2 separate regions of the Homo sapiens genome follow, and region 1 is linked to region 2. Evidence: fine-mapped expression QTL. Tissue or cell type: nasal epithelium. Region 2 holds a variant in brackets; the other region holds the start of a gene. All regions are shown on one strand. Distances are between the middles of the regions.

Evidence for each region. PIP is the estimated chance that this variant, and not a neighbour inherited with it, causes the effect.
Region 1: RRBP1 starts here. The variant in region 2 is fine-mapped to the expression of RRBP1 in nasal epithelium (TOPMed, PIP above 0.99).

What each region holds. Positions count from the first base shown.
Region 1 is chr20:17,677,368-17,683,909 of GRCh38, forward strand. RRBP1 (ribosome binding protein 1) reads right to left here and starts at 4,875. Exons shown (of 25, transcript NM_001365613.2): 1 at 4,661-4,875; 2 at 2,632-2,708. RefSeq lists enhancers at 2,169-3,368, 3,560-4,232, 5,486-5,545 and silencers at 3,806-4,115, 4,146-4,195, 4,226-4,555, 4,786-5,205.
Region 2 is chr20:17,839,010-17,847,174 of GRCh38, forward strand. The region is part of intron 1 of LOC107985440 (a long non-coding RNA gene); the gene reads right to left. Among named protein-coding and RNA genes, the nearest start is that of SNORD17, 120 kb to the right of the region's middle. The variant G/T (reference allele first, on the strand shown) is at 4,171.

The DNA.
Region 1 (6,542 bases), 160 kb before region 2:
AGTGGGCCTCCTTTCTGACCAGAAAGAGATCAAGTAGCTGTCCATCATTCAGCTTCTTCCTTTAAAGTTAAACTTTGGTTTTATATTATTCTTTACAGAGTACTAATACTAAGATGAGCCCACAAGTACAACCAAGAATTCAAAAATTATTCCCCAGTACTGCCCAATGATCCTTTCGAAGTTATATGGAGGCCGGGCACGGTGGCTCATGCCTATAATCCTAGCACTTTGGGAGGCCGAGGAGGGCAGATCACCTGAGGTCAGGACTTCTAGACCAGCCTGACTAACATGGTGAAACCCCGTCTCTACTAAAAATACAAAATTAGCCGGGTGTGGTGGCGCATGCCTGTAATCCCAGCTACTTGGGAGGCTGAGGCAGAAGAATCACTTGAACCCGGGAGGTAGAAGTTGCAGTAAACCAAGATCACGCCATTGGACTCCAGCCTGGGCAACAAGAGCGAAACTTTGTCTCAAAAAAAAAGAGAAAAAAGAAAAAGAAAAAAAAGTTATATGGAGAATAACAGAGCTGTGTAAATAGTCACTGGTGTAGGAAGCAATTTATGCCACCCAAGAACACTGGAACTCCAATACTTTGGAACTGAAAAGGTTTCGGGACTGGGCAGGTATTCTAGTCTTGCCAAAAAAATCTAAGTTAGAAATCACAAAATGTTCTTGATAAGTTAAAGTTGCTGCCCATTGTTGACAGGTGGAAGACACATGTTACTGAATGCACATAAAGGACACACACGTCTGGTTTTGGGGGTGTCTGGTTGTCTGCTTCAGGAGACTCGGCCAGAATTTGTCTGCCTAAGAAAAGTCTCCTAGGAGGCCCCTGAACTAATTTTCTATATGCTAAGTGAGAGTGCCTCCTTGCCTAGGCACTGTCACTTAAAATTAAATATTTACCTTCCCTTACAAGCCATCACTTTCTACCTAATATCAATTTATTTTCTGTCTTTGTTACAAGTCACCATTTTGATGCTGAGGGCATTGGGTAAAAAATCTCTCCAGGAAAGGGCCACTATCTGTGTGGCCCCCCTCCCACTCCTTTTTCTTGGAATGCAGTTTACAATGCACACAAAGAGGCGGGACTAATGCTTTCTCAGGGTGAGATCTTATCAGGTGAAGTGTATCAACTGCCACTAGTCAACTGGTTTTGACCTACAGAATGGGCAATTTCATGTGGTTCAACATATTACCACATGATCAAGAGGAACAGGGACATGAATGTTTACAGAATACCAGCTGCCTCTACATCAGCACTGTCTAGAACTTTCTGTGATGGTGGAAACCATCTACAGCCACGCTGACCAACTTATGACTACTGAGCACCTGAAATGTGGCTAATTTGACTCAGAAATTGAATTTTTAATTTTACTTAATTTGAATTGTTTTAAACTTAAATTGCTACTTGTGGCTACTGTATTGGACAACACAGTTCTAGACAGTAGCTTTTTCAGGCAAGAACTAGGTCTCACTTGCGGTGTTTGAAGGCCCACCACACAGGAGACCCTCGGTGAAAAAAATGAAATGAAAAATACCTTCAGCACTGCCAGATTTTCAAAATGCCTCCCCACCTTCCTGCCACTGAAGCTCTTAATTTTGATCTTCACGTTCTGTGTCCTCCCTTGGGTAATTATTGCCCCAGGAAGGTGGAGGTATATAGCCAGGAGGGAACATTTGGAAGGCCGGGCCCACATCGCCTAGCAACTGGGCAACAGGAACTGGCCTGACAACCTTCTGACCAGCTGGACCTCCACATTCTCATCCACTGAATGGGTGACAACCATTCCCACCCCCTAGAACAGGGTTATTTTAAGGCCTAAATGTAAACCACAGTTGTGGAATCTGATTCTAAAAAGTGAACCTTAAAAACCAAGTTGGGCTAAGCTTCATTTATCCAATGAGACAGCTGGGAATAGTTTAACAGGTATGGGGGCGCTGTCCGCCTGGTATAACCAATATTTATGATGTTATAGGCCAGGCCTTAACCACTGCAGGCCCAGCATGCACAGACGGACAGCACAGTCCCTGCCTTCATCATTCTGACTTGACCATTATTTTTGTTTCTCCTGAAACAAGATTTTAGCAAAGAAAAACTTGCTGTCTCAACAGAACTGTTGATCCTCTATGTGTCATTCATCTATTAGTTAAAATTCCCAGGGCTAAAAAGACAAGAAGAGTCTGGGGTCCCGACACTTTTAAAAGGTGTCCCTGCTACATAATAAATCAATACTCCAATTCAATCACTGGCATTCAACCATTTAAACTGAGTTTGCTGCTATGTAATTATTGCAGCCTGTTGAGTTAGGGCTCATTTCATTAAAGAGCATAATTGCTCAAATGTGACTTGATTTAAGATTTATTTAAAACTCTTCCATCACCAAAAAATACTCATATACCATGAACCACTGTAACTTCTTAATCTCTCTGTAAATGTTCAGAGGCAGATTCCTAAGTATGAAAGGTGAGAGTTGTTATAGTGCCTAGAGCTCTAAACCCTCTCCTAAACCCCAAGATCCCTTTCTGGTTTCCCCTCCCCCAACCTTAGCCTCCTCCAGGCCTCCACTGGCCCAAGATCCCTGCAAGCCGGCTTTGCGGTGCTCCATGTAAAAGGAAAACTTCACCTACTAGGAGGTCTGCCCCGGCCTTTGCTTCAACAGAGAGGGAAATGGCACCTCCAGGACCTCAGAACCGGAAGCTTCTTTCTGGAAGGGAAAGAGGTTGGCATATGATAGTGGGAGTGACCTTTGGCAAGTTCGTAAACGAGTCAAGACATCACACAGTAAGTGACATGCTGCAGGGTCACAGATTTCTCTAGGTGTCGGATTAACAGGAAGTTAAATCAAACAAGGAGTGTGAGGAGGGAGGCGGGGCAGTGGGAGAATGCCCCCCAGCTGCACAGGGCGGGGTAACATTCGCAGTTGTTCTTCCTGGGAGTGCCAGACAGACGTCCTGGGTCTCTGGGGACACCCAGTTCTGAAGAGGTATCTAATGTGAGATATGAGGCCCTACCAGGCCCATTTCTCCAAATTCCTGAAAATGCCATCCAGATGGCCCCTACCCTGAAGGTTCCAGCACGCAGAGTGAATAGCTGAGCAGTGACGTGGGAGGCTCCTCAGGTCCCTCAGAGTTTCATTTCCTTGGTGCTTCCCAGTCTCTCCTAACCTCTGACCTCTCAGAGTAATTGCCAAATTGCCTTCTGTTTGTACAAGGTCCCAGCACTTCCCGGCGTGGTTCCCGACCCTGTGAGTGGGTGGTGCTGTCTTCAGGCCACAGATAAGAAACTAGGATTCAGAGGGGCTATGGGACCTGCGAGTAGGCGGCCAGTACGTGGTCCGGGGTGTAGAACCCCGGCTGTGCAACTTCTGCAGCCCCGCGCCCGCCGCAGTGCCGGAGCCAGGCCCCACCTTCCTCCCGTGTCCAGCACCCCCCAACAAAAGCATCCCAACTGAACAGCCAACACTTGTGGCTCCTTCCTACAAGTGCTGGGTCTCCACAGCTTTCCTCGCAAATCGAAGCTAACAGGAGCCCCGATTTGCAGACCAGGAAATGGAGACCCCGAACGAAACAACTTGGTCGGGGTCACCCTCGCCAGCCGGGGCACTCTAGAGCTAAAACTCGCGACTTATCATTCGGAGAGGGGTCCCTGAAGCACTGCGGGCGCCCCACTGGAAGCGCAGACCCCGGCCTGCCTCCCCTAATCAGGGCGCAGCGGGAGAGCCGGCCGGGCCGGGGCGGGCACCAGGCCGGGTGCCAGCGCGCTTGGCCGGCCCGGAGGTGTCCGCTTCCGCCCGGGGCTGGCACCGCCGGCCCATTCATCGTGGCCGCGGGCGGGGCGGGCCGGGCCCCGGGCGCCCTCGTCCCCCCGCCGGGAGCCCTCGAGCCAGGCTCCGCGCAGCCCAGCCGGGGAAACGGTGGCCCCGGCCCCGCCGCCAGGGGGAGCAGGGAGCCGCCTCCCGCACTCCGGGAAGTTGCCACCGCGGCCGCCCGGCGTCCGTGCCATGGACAGACCCGGTCCCTGCGCCGCGAGCCCTGCGGCCCCGGCCCGCCCCGTCGGGGGCCGTCCCAGCCCCGCGAAGCGCCAGCGGGCCGCGGCCCGGGACCGGCGCGCTCGGCCCGTGGGCCCCCATTCAATCCCGCCCTCCTCCCCTCGGCCGGCCTCCGCCGCCTTCCGCCCGCACCCCACCCCTCCGGCCCGGACTCCAGCCCGGCAACGTCATCCGGCGGCTTCCCGAAACTTAACCCCTTCCTCCGCCAGCTGTGCGCCGCCCCGCCCCGCCCCGCCGCCAACTTTCTTCGCCCAACTTCGGAGCGCGCTGGCCGGCCCGACGGCCCTGCCGGGAGGGAGGGAGGCAGGGAGCGGTCGCCACGTCGCGCCCGTCTGCCGCCGCAGCTCCCCGGACGGCGAGGGCCGCGGGGTCCACACCACGGGGCGCGCCCTGCCTACGCCCCGGTACGGCGCTTGCCCGGCACCCCCGCCCCGAGTCCGACCCCGACCCCGATGGTGCACGGCCGCGGCGGCAGGCGGCGGGCGGCGGGCGGGCCGGGGGAGGGGCCGCCGAGGAGACGTGTCACTCGCGGCGCAGCGCGGCCGGCCCCGGCCCCCCGACGGCCCGGCCCGCGCGCGGCCGCTGCAGGGCCCGGCCAAGTTTCTTACCTGCAGCCAGAGACGCGAGAGGGAAAGCGAGAGGGCAGGAGCCGCCGCCTTCGCAGCCGCCGCGGAGCCGGGAGAGAGGAGCCGGCCAAGCCTCCGCCAAGAAACCGCCCCCGAGCAGCTGTAGACGCTGCGACCCTGACGCCGCCCGCCCCGTCTGCCGTCCGCTCCGGCCGCTCGCTGGCTGCGTGCGCGCGTGTGGAGTCGTGGCACTTTCTGCCTCAGAGCTGGCGAACGGCCCCCTCCGCCGGGATCGCCGCCTCCTGCCTTCCCCACCCGGGCCAGCCATTCATCGAGCCGCCTCTTCCCATTGGTCCGCACCCCGCCACTCTGCCGGTCGCTGGCCAGTCAGGACGCGGGTGGCCGAGCCGCGGCGGCGGCCATTGGGCAGAGAGGAGGGTCTCCACCTCGGCCAATGGGAGAGGGGAGGAGCTGCGGGGAGGTGAAGGGGGCAGGGCTGGGGAGAGGCGGGGCCGAGCGGCGCGGCGCTCGGCCGTGCGCGGGGCGGGGCGGAGCAGGAACGCCCCGCCCACCGAGGGGGGGGTCTCCGGCCAGCTCCGCCCACTCTGGGCCCGCGGCGCTCCCAGCAGTCTCTGACTAGGATCCGGCTCTGCCTAGGCGGGAAGCAGAAGGTTCGGGTCCCGGCGACCCCGGGCCTGCGCCTCTGGATACCGCTGGGCTGACATGGCGGTGGCTGAACAGGGTTGCGCAACCGCGAACAGCCAAGGAAGCTGCTTTATTTAAACCCAACTAACTTCCCCCGAAGCAGCGCCCCCTCGGGCCGCCGGGTATGAGGACAAGCTCTGCTGGGGGTCAGCCCAGGGAGAGCAAGTTCTTATCATCAAAGAGATTGCAATCAGCACCAGAAGGAATTTCCTTCAGTAAATGGAGGAATTGGGGTGGAAGAGCCAGAAGGTGCACGAGGAATTGAAGCGGATGTCATCGCCCTCGTTGTTAGGGAGGGTACAACTGAGGCACGGTCTATTTAAGATACTCAACCAAATCACAGCCGGCAGAGCAATAATTACAATCCACTCTGTGGCGTTTTATTCCATGCGTTGGGGAAGGTGAGAGGTTCTAACCTAAGAAAACTCATCCGTGTCCCACAAAACGGAGCAACTGGTACTTCCTCATTCCCTGACTTTCTCCCCAATATCAGCCAACACTCAGTCTTCATAATTAGTCAAGTCTTTAAATTAAAATAATTTTAGGCTTGATTTTTAACCATTATGTCAGCGTCTCTTAAAGCCAACCCTTTGAACTTGAGCCAAAGCCAGCTTCTTTGGAATTTTGGATTCTGAGCGACCAAAGGCTGCCTAGACTGCCCCCCATCACTTCCCTAGCTCCTGTTGCTGCAGAATCCCGTGCCTAACATCTATTTCTTGGACAATTTTCAATCTTCCCTGTCCCCATTTGTCACTAGTACTGTACTAGCTGTTGTTAGAAAGATGTGAAAAATACAAGCCTTCATGGGGAATAAAGAGCGATTGGGTTGAAATTAAACTGTTCATTCCTATTTTTAATCTTGGCGGTTCCTTAGCCCATTAATGATTAATCAGCAGGAATTAACCTGGATTAACTCTGGAACACTCAGTCATTTTCCAGCAGTGAGACCCGGCTTCAAATGAAAGTCAAGAATCCCAGCTTCTGGCTGGCAATTGCTACCAATGAGTCCTACTTGACCAGGGCTGGGCCATCTAACCTTTCTGAACATGGGTATACTCCTTTAGGACAATCACTCCTTCCTCTGGGTTTCAGGGAGGAAATTCATTCGTTCATTCATTCATTCATTCATTCACCGGTGTTTGTGGAGTGCCCGGTATACAGTGCTAAGCTGGGCAAGCAGCCTAGAATGACACATAGGTCCAGTGAAGACCCAGCTGCC
Region 2 (8,165 bases):
AAGGACATTGCTTTCTCTGAGAACCAAGTAGCATGCTGGGGCCCCTCCTGCAGCCTCTCTGCTCTCCCACCCCACCCCTTCCTCCACACATCATCCCTCCATATAGATGTGTCATTGCTGCCAAGCATCCTTCCACCCTTCCCGCTGCCCTGGCAACCACGAAGATGGTGTGTGTCTGACCCTGCCCTAGCTCCAGAGTCCTGACTGGAGTAAGTCTTAGCTACCTTGTCATAGTGGTTGGTACAAATAACCCAGACTGAAGTCACTTCGCATATGAGATTCCCATGGAACACCACAGGGAGTGGCCCAGAGGCTGGGAACACAAATTCAATCTCGAGGGTGTACAGGCTTGGAACATGGGGAAATCCAGCAGAAAATCAAGTGGATCTACAGAAATGGGCAGACAAGAAAAGTGAAAGGAAAGGACACCAGAGCCCAAACCTGGCTTCTGTTGCTTGCCAACAAAAGCATTGTGACAATTCCCAGGACTCCCAGAGACCTGTTGTGTGTTTTGGAAATTCACAGAGCACCTAAGACTGAGCAGAAATACAGAGGAGGTAGACACTGGTCCAGTGTGGCTGGTAGATGCTGACGGTGGGAAGCACAGGATCTGCCCAGGGTGTTGGGTGCTTCTGCAGAAGGATCAGCCCTGCCATGAACATGAAAACCCCTTGCCTGATCCCTGCAGCTCCAGCCAGTCACTAAATGACAGCCATGTGACTACTGTGTGTGATGGGCTCACCAAGTGCATCCGATACAGCTTGTGAATTCAAGGACCTTGCAATCTAGTTAGAGGGACCACATTGGCTGCATAGGGTGGGGGTAAGGGCATGGTTTGGGGATCAGATGGACTTGGGTCTGGGTAGCACCAAATCTCTGTGGGCCTCAAGTTCCTTATACGCAAATGAGAGATAATACCATTATCTACACCATAAGGATGTGTTGACTTTTGAAAAATATATTTTTATAATTAATCAGGCTTTGAAACCTTGACTCACATATAATTCAAAATCATTAGACATTTTGTAAATGAAGCATTCATTTGATCTTTAGATGTGCTGACTTTTAAACAATATTTATGTCAAGTACCCAGCATCATGCCTGATGAGCAATTAATATTTTAAAATGTTGACTATTATATTAGAGTTATCATTAATGAAGGCAGGTGAAAAGTGAAATGGTAAGAAACAGCTTATGCTGTGCCCTAAGTGACAGACACAGACAAGGGGTGAGGTCTTTCTAGGAAAGTTTAGGAAAAGACAGGCTTGTGCCTCCTTTAAAAGACGGGGTGAGGGGGAACTAATGCTGTTACAAAGGTCTCTATCTCTGATCAGAGAAGTGCTGGGAGCCACATGAGGAAAGAGGGTTTGCATGGGCAGGATTCCATTACCAATTTGAGCTTCAATCCCAACATGGCTTTCATTCCAAGGTCTTTATCCAGAAGTCTGATTTGAGGGATAAGAATCAGGGAAATGTCTTGGCTCCCATGTTAGTGTATGTGATGAAAAGAGACAGCAACTGGCATTTACTGGACCTCTACGATGTACCAGGCCCTGTGTAGGTGTTTTTATAAATAGTGTATCTGTCAGCTATTCCCACAATAAAGCTGTGTAACAAAATTCACAGCATACAACATCTTCGGGTTACATGGAATTTGGCTGGCCTAAGCGGGGCTCAGCTGGGCCTGACTCCTGGCCATCGGATGGGTTCAATTCTGCTTAGTATGTTTCTTATACTTCTGGAACCAGCGCTACCTAAAAAATTATTTTCTACAATGATGGTAAAAAAGTGCAGGAGCCAGCTTAACAGCACAAGCCCACTCAAGCCTTCACTTACATCATGACTGTCAACATCCTTGACCATAGCAAGTCACATGGCTAAGACCAAAGCTAAGGGACATTAAGTATACTCTGCCACCTGAGGCCATAGCAAGAGTGTGGACATCTAATATTAATGCTACTACAGGGAAGTGAAAATAGGAAATTATTATTCTACCTTCTACAGAAGCTGTTTTATTCTATCCTCTTCAACAACCCCAACAGGCAGCCATTATTAACCCCAATTTAGAGATTTTAAAAACCGAGACTCGGAAAATGCCACAGTAATTTAGAATGTCTAAGCCACCAAACTAAGATTTGTGCCTTGTCTGCCTGGCTCCAAAAACTGGGGTCTTCTGCCATTCTGGGCAGCCTGTTAAGTTGAGAATTTGCATTTTAAACCATCCATCTGTGGGCAACAGTGACCTATCATAAACCACGGTCAAAATCAGAGAGAAGGATTTGAGTACAAGTAGGTGATTTGGGAGGTGATCTCAAGAAGCACCATAGAGAAATGTGGAAGAGAAACAGGGAAGAGAAGCCAAGAAAGGGGGCTTACTGGAGCCAGTTACTGCTGTGGGAGGATGGGCTACTGAGGACAGGGGTGACCAATAGAAGAGGGTCACATACTTCAGAGTTGTTGCAACCAACAGGCGGGGAGCTGGGGTCCTTGTCCATCAACTTCCAGGAGCCATTGAGAAGCACCACTCTGGTTCACTGGGTCTCAATCTAAAATCATCTGGGAGTTTGTTGTTGTTGTTGTTGAGACAGTGTCTCACTCTGTCACCCAGGCTGGAGTGCAGTGGTGTGATCTTGGCTCACTGCAACCTACCTCTGCCTCCCAGGTTCAAGCAATTCTCCTACCTCTGCCTCCAGAGTAGCTGGGATTACAGGCGTGTGCCACCACACTCGGTTAAATTTTGTACTTTTAGTAGAGATGGGGGTTCCCCATGTTGGCGAGGCTGATCTCGAACTCCTGACCTCAAGTGATCCACCCGCCTCGGCCTCCCAAAGTTCTGGGATTATGAGTCACCGCGCCTGGCCAAGTTTATTTTTTTTTTCCGTGATGGCTGGGTCTCAGCTCCAGTGATTTTGAGCTGATGAGGCTGTGTCAGCCTGAGCATGGGACTGGTGAAAGCTCCCCCAGTGACCTGTTGGACATGGTAGTTTGGGAAGCTCTGGTCTAGCTAGTTCCTCGGATCCCTCTGAGCCTACAAGTTCGAGGCCTCTTTGAACAAGCTCAGCTGAGGATGGAAACCCTGAGAAAGTGGCCCGTGCAGCTGGAGATAAATCATTTATTGGCCGGGGCTGCAGCTGGTGGCGGCTTGAGAAATGAGCTTTTTGGCCTTAACTCCACTGTTTGTGCTCCCGTGACCATAAGGGAACTGAACGCACAGACTTTCTTTTTAGAAAGAAAAAAAAAATGTCAAGCATATTTTCCAAGGTTTAATTTCCCTCCAATGTCCTGAAGAAACCTTTCGAAAAGCTTAGACTGCCTCAACCCCAGTATCTAGTAATAACATCAAACACTTTGAAATGGAGACCCAGTGTGACTTTGTTTAACTAAATAAAACCCAGGGAAGGAGAGAAATTAAAAAGAGCACGGGTTTAAGAGAAGTCAAATTTCCACCAAAAAGGTGGAAGAGGGAAGCTGGTTGGTGGAGTAGGATGGGAGGCAGATGCCGAATCCCAAGAGTTTAAAATTCAGGAAAAGAAGAGAAATGCACTGTCTTTGCCAGATTTAGCAAATAAAAATATGGGATGCCTAGTTCAATTTGAATTTCAGATAAACAATGAATTTTTTTTAGTGTGTGTCCTGTGCAATATTTGGGACATACTTATACTAAAAATATTATTCATTGCCCATCTGAAATTCAAATTGAACTGGGCATCCTGGATTTTATCTGGCAACCATAAAACATACAAAAATTGGTCTCAACTGGTCAGGACACCCTTAACCAGGTGTCTCTGAGTTAAATTGGGTGACTCTGTGCTAAACGAGATGTCTCTGGTCTTAACTGGGCATCCCTGGTCTTCTCCCATTTGTAACTGGAGTGGAAATACCCATAAAGGAAGATAAGGAAATAAATGGATGGAAAGGAGAGGAGACAGAGAAAAAGGGGGTCTTCATGGGAAGGGCAGGGGCACCAGCATCCCTCTGCCTGCTTTCTCCCACCCCTGAGCTCTCAGCACAGCCGAGGGACCTGAGGTCAGAGTCCCTGTCCAGAGTGAGAATTCGCCTTTCCCTCTGTGAGCTGAGGATTTGGAGGAAGGTCTGCAGAAATCGGGAGGGCCATCTGCCCCAGCCCTGGAGAAATGAGATGGGGTGCTGGAGGTTTAACCCCCAGGCACG[G/T]ACTCGGGGCCACCCCTTCCCTATGGCCTGCCCTCCTTTGCCCAATCCTTTCTTCCCTGTGCTGCCTCCATCCGCCCTCTTCTCTTCTCCTACCTCCTCATCTCTTACCCTCCAAATAAGGAAGCCAGAGGCAGTGGTGTGGTCAGGGAGGATGCCTGCAGGTCTGATCCCTGCCCCCAGACAGAATCCAGTTGCCAATGAGGCAGCTGGGGAGGGTTTGGAGGAAGGGCTGTGGGTGCTGGGTGGTGCTGGGGATCCTGGCTCGCTGACCGCACAGGGCCCCACCGCTGGCTCCAGAGGACTCAGTGTAGCTGTCTCAGGCCTGCCAGGGCGCCTGCATTGGAGCCACATCAAGGTGAGAAGAGGGCCTGGCCTGCAAGGCAGCAAAGAACAGCTTTATTCCTTCACTGCCAGCGGCTCTGGGAGGTGGAAGATGACGTGGCCCAGTCATTCCACTCCCAGGAACTGACCCAAAGAAAATAATCCAGCCCAAGAAAGAGAGCTGTGCTCAGAAATATTCACAGCAACATAAGGGAAGTGGTTTCATAAACCTTGGCATGTCAGCACCGTGGAATGTTCCTTTATTTCACCCGACATTTAAGTGACCACTTGGTGACAGGCATCCTGCCAGCTACTGGGTACCCAAAGGAGGGTATAAGCCGATCCCTTTTCTCTGGGGTTCACAAGCAAAATGAGGGAGGTTGAGAATGCAGCCTCCAGAGTCAGGTAGCGATGGGTCTGTACACCTGTCTGTCCCCTCATCTGTAAAGTGGTGACACCCCATAGGAAGTGGTGAGGGCCAGTGGGGTGACACGCATCACACACACAGCACAGTGCCTGACATGCAGTGAGTGCTCAGCAGTTACCAACTACCCTCATGGCTCCTCCTACTCCTGCAGGGATGTGACAGGCATGGTGACGGGAGGATGTGTGAGCCGTTAAGAGTTCACAGAAGAGGGTGTGTAGGCACCACCACTGAAGTATGCGCAAGTGCTGAGAGCAGAAGGAATGATGGGGTTTAATTCTACTGGAGATGTCACCAAAGGTCACCATAGGCCTTAACTCAGCTGGGTCTTGAAGGATGTATAGAAGTTTGCTGGATGGACAAGAAATGAAAAGACATGCCAGGTAGAAGCAAACCTGTGGGCCCAGTGTGGGCAAATTCAACTCCACCAGACTCAGCTCTCCATCATGGTCCCCAGCCTTTTGGTGATGATCTCAATCTACTCAAGATGTTTTCAGGCCAACATTGAAAGGAAAGGTTCTGGGTCTCTTCCCTTTTCTTCCCATGATTCTCAGCCCCTGTGCAAATGTTCCCATCTTTCCCAGCAGTCTTTGCACTCTTCATATCAAGAGATATTAGAAAGACCAGAAGTGAGCCATTTCAATGTCCACTCGCACACAACCGGGTGAAAAGATCCCACGTTCTTGAAGGAAGGGTCTGTGGTGATAATATTGATTAATAACAGTCAACAAACACGACACCATACTTTTTTTTCTTTTCCTTTTTTTCTTTTTTGAGAACAGGGTCTCACTTCTTGCCCAGGCTGGAGTGCAATTGCGCAATCACAGCTCACCGCAGCCTCCAACTTCTAGGCTACAGCCATCTTCCCACCTCAGCCTCGGAAGTGGCTGGGATTACTGGGCTCTGCAGTAGGGCAGCCCTGGGTTTGAACCTAGATTCACTATTACTAGCTGGGTGACCTTGAGCAGGTCAAGCATGCACCACCACACCTGGCTAATTTTTTCTTTTCTTTCTTTTCTTTCTTTTCTTTCTTTCTTTCTTTTTCTTTCTTTCTTTCTCTTTCTTTCTTTCTTTCCTTTCTTTCTTTCTTTTCTTTCTTTTCTTTCCTTCCTTCCTTCCTTTCTTCCTTCTCTCTCTCTCTCTTTCTCTCTTTCTTTCTTTCTTTCTTTAGAGATGGGATCTTGCTATGTTGCCCAGGCTGGTCTCTAACTCCTGGGCTCAAGCAATCTTCCTGCTTCATTCTCCCAAAGTGTTAGGATTACAGGCATGAGCCCTCACACCTGACTGTTTACTCTCTATTGAGTACTTTACAAATACCATCTCTGTGAATTAGGTATTCTTATCCCCTGAGCTTAGATAATGCAGCTGAGTTGACGCGGCCTGCTGAAGGTCACCCAGCTACTAATAGTGAATCTAGGTTCAAACCCAGGGCTGCCAGAGCCCATTCCCTTACACTGGGTCATGTTACTAAAAATGCCAAAAGAGGCTGGGTGCAGTGGCTCACGCATGTAATCCCAGCACTTTGGGAGGCCAAGCCGGGTGGATCACAAGGTCAGGAGATCACGACAATCCTGGCCCACATGGTGAAACCCAGTCTGTACTAAAAATACAAAAAATTAGCCGGGCATGGTGGTGGGTGCCCATAGTCCCAACTACTCGGGAGGCTGAGGCAGGAGAATGGTGTGAACCTGGGAGGCGGAGCTTGCAGTGAGCCAAGATCATGCCATTGCACTCCAGCCTGGGTGACAGAGTGAGACTCCGTCTCAAACAAAAAACAAAAAACAAACAAACAAATACAAAAATTAGCTGGGTGTGGTGGCGCAGGCCTGTAGTCCCAGCTACTCAGGAGGCTGAGGCAGAAGAATTGCTTGAATCCAGGAGATGGAGATTGTAGTGAGCCAAAATCGCACCACTGCACTCCAGCCTGATGACAAAGCAAGACTCCATCTCAAAAAAAAAAAAAAAAAAAAAAATGCCGAAGAGCTAAGTCAGGGCTTTGATCAAGAAAGGCGAGAAGGCAGGGTTGAGCTCTTCGCTTGAGAGAAGGGGTTAGCTGGTGATGTTGTCATAAGCCCACGAGGGGCCACAGCTCTAGACCTGAGTGCTACACATTGACCCTCCTCTTGGCACCAGACACTGCCCTGCTTGTCATTTCTGTACGGATCAGGGTCCCAGCACAAAACCAAAACCATGCTAGATCTTCCAACCCAGGGAGTTTAATAGAGGGAACTTGTTTTGCAGCTTTGAATTGATGAACAGCCATATGAGGATGTCGAGGTCACCCAGAGGTTAGTAACAACAGGAAGCCACTGCTACCATCACTAGGGCTGGGACAGGAAAGGACAAAGGGACAAGGTGGGGTCATCAGAGTTGATGGTTCTGGGGCCTCTGGCAGGAGCTGGAGCCGCAGCAGAGAGGCAGCCACTGCCTGACACACCCCCAGAAGCAGAGCAGGGAGACACACCCTGAGCTCTCCCCGCCTCTGCCCTCCAGGCTTCTACTCACTTGTCCAAGCCTATCTGAAGCCAGAGGGCAGGGGCCCTGGAAGGGACCCTCTCCACACTGTAGAACAGAAAGCAGAAAGGAGAGAAAAGGGTCTGAGAGAAAACAGGAGGAGGCCAGACACAATGTCTACCCCAACAACTGCCCTTCAAGGTCATTGTTTTTACCCCATTGTAGAGATGAGGAAACTGAGGAAACACTCACATATCCACACCTGCACCTACACATGTACACATCACATACACATATGCACACATACAACCATTATGCACATCATACACACAGGCTCACTGCTTCACTTTGAAGAGGTTAAATGACTGAGCCAACCAAGATGAGACAACTTTTAGGTTGGTGGAGACCTAATTTAAACCCAGGTCACTATATCGGTTTTCACAGCTCAGGCCAAACTGGTCACCTCCAGGACTTTGTGAATCATGAAGAATCCAACAACAAAACAACAGCAACAACAGCAACAACATAACAATGTAAGAGACCTTGAAGTTCCAAAGGCTTAGCCCGTGTGGGGCCAAGGGTCAAGGGCCCTCGGATGATGATGGTGCTCGTGTTTCCCTCTCCTCCTCGGCTCCCTAAGTCCCAGCTGCAGAAGAACATTCTATTAAGCCACAGCCAGCACTCTGGTTTTGGGGACTAAAGGCAATTTTTATTTCCTTCTTTGTGCTCTTCTCTATTTTCCAGAAGGTTTTGTTGTTGTCGGTTTTGGGGGGTTTTTTGTTTGCTTGTTTTGAGA